Linked DNA regions of Homo sapiens: region 2 is linked to region 1. A link means that fine-mapping ties the variant in region 1 to the expression of a gene that starts in the linked region. Tissue or cell type: cerebellum. Region 1 holds a variant in brackets; the other region holds the start of a gene. All regions are shown on one strand. Distances are from middle to middle.

Region 1 (2,679 bases):
GGCGGTGGGGAGGCAGCAGCAGCAGCAAGGCAAGCCCAGCGCCGGCGACCGCTCCTCCCGCGCGCCACTCGCGAGTCTCCGCTGGCGACTCTACCTGGCTCAGCCTCCTCCGCCCCCTCCCCGGCGGCTCGCGAAGCCGGGGCTCTGGCTGTTCTTTCTCTCTTTCCTGTTTTTATAATTTTTTTCCCCAACTCCTTGCCACAGCCACGTACGGCCTAATCAAAGAGATTGAAGGAAGAAAAAAAACCAAAAACATAAAGCGAGGGAAATGCCTAGGCCCCAGAATTTGGCACCACCTAGAAACCCGCACACATTCCGAGCGCTCTCCTCGCTCCCCGCCCCCAGGCCCCTCGCGCAGCTCCTCCTCCACCCCGGCCCCTCCGCCCCCTTCCCCACCGGCCTCCTCCCCGCGCCCGGGACTGGCGCCTGGGTGGCAGGGGTTGGCAGCCCGGAGAGGGCACGGGGTCGCACAAAAAGGGTGCGAGGGTGCGTGAAGAGGGTGGAGGGGCGGGGACCACGCGGGTCGTGGGTGCGGGGGCGGTGGGGGAGTCCCGGGAGCTGAGGGTTCTGCGGCCCCGCCGAAGGTAGTGCTGCGCGTGCCCCGCAGCACGCGAGCGGACGGTGCAAGGGGATGCGGAGGTCGAGGCAGGCAGGCCGGCCAGGGGGCGACTGAAGGTGCAGCCGGCCCCGGGGCGCCCCAGCCACGCACGCGCTGCGGCGCCGGGCTCCCCGCGCCCCCAGCTCTTCTTGCCTAACTTGAAGCAACACCAGAGACACCCCGAGGACCTGGGGTGCAAATGGGGCGTGGGAGAGCCACCAGGAGGGCGCGGGGTGGTCGGACGACGCTGGTGAGGAGGCCGCCCTCCCTCCACAGCCCAGCTCCCTCCGAAACCGCCCCTTCCCTTCGCCTCTCTCCGGAGGAGAGCAGGAAAGGTCGCGGGGCGGCAGAGGACGCCCAGAGGCCCAGGCGCCCCTCGCGGGCGCTGCGCCCCGCAGAGAGCCCGGCTGTGACCGTGACTCCATTCTCATTATCATGAACGCAGGCGGAGGCTCGGCTCTCCGGCTGCCCGCAACTTTTCCAAAGCCTGCGCCTCACTGTGCCCGCCGAGAGCGAGGGAGGGCGACATGGCTCCACTCGCCGCGCGCTCTCGGGCTTGCCTCCTGCCCAGCCGCAGGAAG[G/A]CGCGCTCCAGCGCCCCTGTGTGGACACCCGCACCAGCGGGCTCCGCTCCTCCGCTCCAGGCCCGGCCTGGCTTCTCTTCCCCTCCCGGCCCTCCCGCGTCCTCCCCGGCTCCCTCCTGCACTCTTCTCCGTCCTTCTGGAGTTGCTGGGCACGCGTCTCTCTCGTCTCGTCCCCACGTCCTCCTTGCGCGCCCCTTCCAGCCCTTCCCGGCCGGGAAGGACCTATCACATCCAGAGAGCGAACGTGGGCCGGGAAACCCCAACTCCAGAGGGGGGAACCTGTGAGACCCGCCCCTGCCCATTCCGCCGCCTCCTTCCACATGGAGGTAGGTCGTTGGCTTCATCTCCCAGGACTGCTAAGGCTCCCTGCTCCTTCCGGGTTTCCATGCCTGTTTCCACTTAGGGTTTCAAAATAACAGGCTCGGCCGCCACGCACAAGGCTGACTGCAGGCTCGCCCCCAGCCTTGGCATTGCCCCAAGCCCAGAGAGAGGCCTGCCTGGGCCTGAAACTGCATGCTCCCTCTGTTTCCCTAACTGCGGGGGAGAATACTGGATGCCGGTGAACAAGTCTCCTGGGAAGAGACCTCCCTTCAGTCCCTTCCACCTGCCTCCCTTCCCCAAGCTTTCAATCCAGTGTGTAGTTTTTGGTTTAACCAAAATTTGTACCACGCTCATCTTCTGTTTACTCCACAGTAGTTACCCTTTACTATGAAGAAACATGAGTTTAAAAACACTTTAAAAAAATAGCAAATACAAAACCAAGTAAAACCAGGATTGCAACAGCTAAGCAAAACTTGCTGCATGGGAGAGGCCAGGCAGGTGGGTCTGGGGTGGGGAGAGCTTCAGCTGCTCCATTTGACTTTGAAGACAGAGGCAACAGAGCCATAAAACTAAACTTTAAAAGTCACCACAATTAGATAGATAGAAAACCTTGCTCTCAACCCCCTCCTCTGCCCCAGCTGTGCTTTTGATGGGAGGAAGCTGCCTCTCCTAACATGGACATGAAAGAAAGCTCATGCTATTCACCGCAGCATCGCGATCCTGACATTTCACTAAATATAGATGCAGTTAGGGTCCCACTTATGTAATATACATATGCTATCTATGAAATATGCATGCATATTTTTACACAAACTAAATGTCATACTAATATAGTTTATACAAAATACAATACTTATGCAGAATAGTTTATGTATCATACATGATACTTCATAGATGTGTGCATATTAATCATAGAATACTATTGGGATAAAGCATATGTGCCACTTTTAAAAATTATATTCTCAAAGCATTGTAGGTAACTATAATCTAACCAAAGTTTAAAATCTCAAATTATCTAAGAAAATATGATAAGCGATTTCTGCTTAAAATTATAAAATGAAATCACCATAAAACTCATAAGCAACAGGGGAAAGAGTTGAAATAAAAATTTGTGCTGGGAAGCAAATCTCACAATTAAGCAGAAGAAACGGAGGGCAGGGGAGGAGGGCAGGAAAGAGC
Region 2 (2,679 bases), 270 kb after region 1:
TGGATGCAGGCCCAGATGTTCTCTGGGTTAGGTGTTAAGGACTTGTGGGAGTCATCAGGCAGCAGGCATTTGCCCCAGTGTCAGAGGTGTTTAAGCCAGAATTACTCCATCTTGAATAAGGGCTGGGTAAAATGAGGCTGCATTCATAGGAGGTTAGGCATTCTAAGTCACAGGATGAGACAGAAGGTTGGCACAAGATACAGGTCATACAGACCTTGCTGATAAAACAGGTTGCAGTAAAGAAGCTGGCTAAACGCCACCAAAACCAATATGGCAATGGGAGGGACCTCTGGTGGTCCTCACTGCTCATTATGCACTAATTATAATGCATTAGCATGCTAAAAGACACTCCCACCAGCAAGCACCATGACAGTTTACAGACGCCATGACACCATCATGAAATACTCTATATGGTCTAAAAAGGGGAGGAAGCCTCAGTTCCGGGAACTGCCCACCCCTTTCTCTGAAACTCATGAATAATTCAACCCTTGTTTAGCATATAATCAAGAAATAACCAAAAAATGGGTAACCAGTAGCCCTGGAGCTGCTCTGCCTATGGAGTAGCCATCCTTTTACTTCTTTGCTTTCTTAATAAACTTGTTTTCACTTTACTCTATGGGCTTGCCCTGAATTCTTTCTTGCATGAGATCCAAGAACCCTCTCTTAGGGCCTGGATCGGGACCCCTTTCTGATAACACCAGGAGACACCCTGGGTGGATTTCCTGAACCGACCGATAGATGAGCCTTCCACGCGGGAGACCTGGATCCTTATCGTCTTTGTGGCCCCTTCCATCTGCACGTGCGGACGAGGTCCGGGTCGCACTCGGGCGGTCAGCCTGGCACGCACAGCGCCGGCGTGCAGGGGGCCTTGGGTGCCACCGAGTCCGGGAGGAAATCTAGGCCGCCATCCGTCCGGAGACTGGCACCTGTGACCACCACCCAACATGTATTGAACAAGGGCTTGGAGGTCCTTTCTCTAAGGCCGCACCGATAAACGATTACCGACTGTTGACCTCACGGCCCCTTCGCTTCCGGCCGCACCGCCTCGCTGCCCACGCCTGCGCACTCAGGCACCGCAGGTAGGAGGAACGTACCAACTGCGAGGCGGGGGGTGCGCGCGAAGACCCCCGCAGGCTGCGCTTCCGGAAGTAACCCCTGGCGCATCCCGGAATCCAGAGCGCCCACTACGGCCTTTGGCCAGGCCCCCTGGGCGCGTTCCGGGAGCTCAGGCCTGCGGCGCTGGGAGAAGCACGCTGGCCAACAAGTTGGGTGGTGGGCACGCGGCCCAGGGGTCAGGGGCCGCCAGGCGGCGGGCGGCGGGGCTGCGGCTCTTACCTGCCGAGGAGGCGCCGGCTCTGCGGTGCGGAGTTGCGCCGGACTTCCCAGCTTGGCCAGTGGCTCCGCAGGCTGCCGGCTCCACCCCTCAGGTAAGCGGGGACTGGGCCGCCGAGGTTCAGGGAAGGGGGCGGCTGTCGGGGCCCGTGCCGGCCCCGGGGGGCCACCTGCTGGGCCAGCGGTGCCCTCGCGCCGAAACACACTGGGAGAGGCCAGAATCTTCCGGAACAGCCAGCCCTTACCCATCTCTCCCTCTGTGCCGAGAACTGCCCTGAAATACTGTGGTATTAATTAACTCGTTTAACACTAACAATCTCATGAGGCGGGTGCTGTTACTATTCCCGTAATGTAGACGAGGAAACCGAGGCGTGTGCTGGAGCAGGATCACGGCCGTGCTCAGAGACGGGCTCTGGATGCCATGCTCTGACTCCATTGTTAGCCCTAAGCTTCCAGAAAGTAGCAGAGTGCTGCCGTGTCGTTTGTAACAGATCTCACTTTGTGTCATTTTTTTTGCACAGTATGAAACCTAATGATGCATGATTATTATTTAAAACATCTTGCTTAGACTTTATAAGTAGTCAAATTTGCGTGTGGGACAAAACCCCAAAACATGCAATGGCTTGCTCTCCTCTTTTCCTTTCACACGTTCATCTCCTCCTATCCCTTTCTCTCACCACCTTTCAATCTTCTCACAGATGTTGTGGAGGAAGATGAGACTTGAGGGCCCAGCAGGTGCTTAAAATCCCCTGCCTGGTGGGGGTGGAGTAGACACTCTGTCCCCCTGCAGTGCTGGAGTTGAGAGCAGAGGGGCTGGAGAGGGACTGGGCGGAGTGAGAAAGGCCTGGCATAATCATGGAATGCCCAGGGTGGGGTTCTACTTCTCTTGCAGGCACAAGAGAAGTAGAAGAGTGGCCGCTTTCCTTCTGGGCACGCACTTGGGAAAAGGCTTGGTGAGAGCAGCGAGAAGAATAGGTCTAATTTCTTGAGCCAGTGTGCGGAGGTGCTTCCCAGCCCAGGCTAAGCCAGATCACTCAGCCAGCCGCTGGCTGCCTTTACAGATGTACGGCTCCCCGTGAGCAATCAACATGCCTGGCTCTCAGGCATAAGCTGCCTCACTTCCCTTCTGCACAGCACTCCAGGACTTGCCTGCTACCAGACCCATCCTACTTTCTCTGTCAGGAAAAATGAGAGTTCTTCCTGGTCTCTTGAGGCCAATCCCTTCCACCGCCTGTGCCCTGGATCCCTTTCTCCAGGAAGCTTCTCTTCCCTGTGTAGTTAGCCTCCCCGCTCTTCCCAGGTCACCTTCTCTCTGTTTAGGGACAGAGCCAAGCCTTTTCCCTCCCA

Evidence for each region. PIP is the estimated chance that this variant, and not a neighbour inherited with it, causes the effect.
Region 2: it holds the start of LRRC61, and the variant in region 1 is fine-mapped to the expression of LRRC61 in cerebellum (GTEx, PIP 0.98).

What each region holds. Positions count from the first base shown.
Region 1 is chr7:150,047,950-150,050,628 of GRCh38, forward strand. It overlaps a transcript of ACTR3C not described here. Among named protein-coding and RNA genes, the nearest start is that of ATP6V0E2, 180 kb to the left of the region's middle. RefSeq lists enhancers at 818-1,452, 1,453-2,086. The variant G/A (reference allele first, on the strand shown) is at 1,180.
Region 2 is chr7:150,322,134-150,324,812 of GRCh38, forward strand. It overlaps LRRC61 (leucine rich repeat containing 61), which reads left to right and starts at 1,222. Exons shown (of 3, transcript NM_001142928.2): 1 at 1,222-1,427. ACTR3C (actin related protein 3C) reads right to left here and starts at 1,412. Exons shown (of 8, transcript NM_001164458.2): 1 at 1,336-1,412. RefSeq lists enhancers at 442-551, 602-661, 1,982-2,051 and a silencer at 1,272-1,591.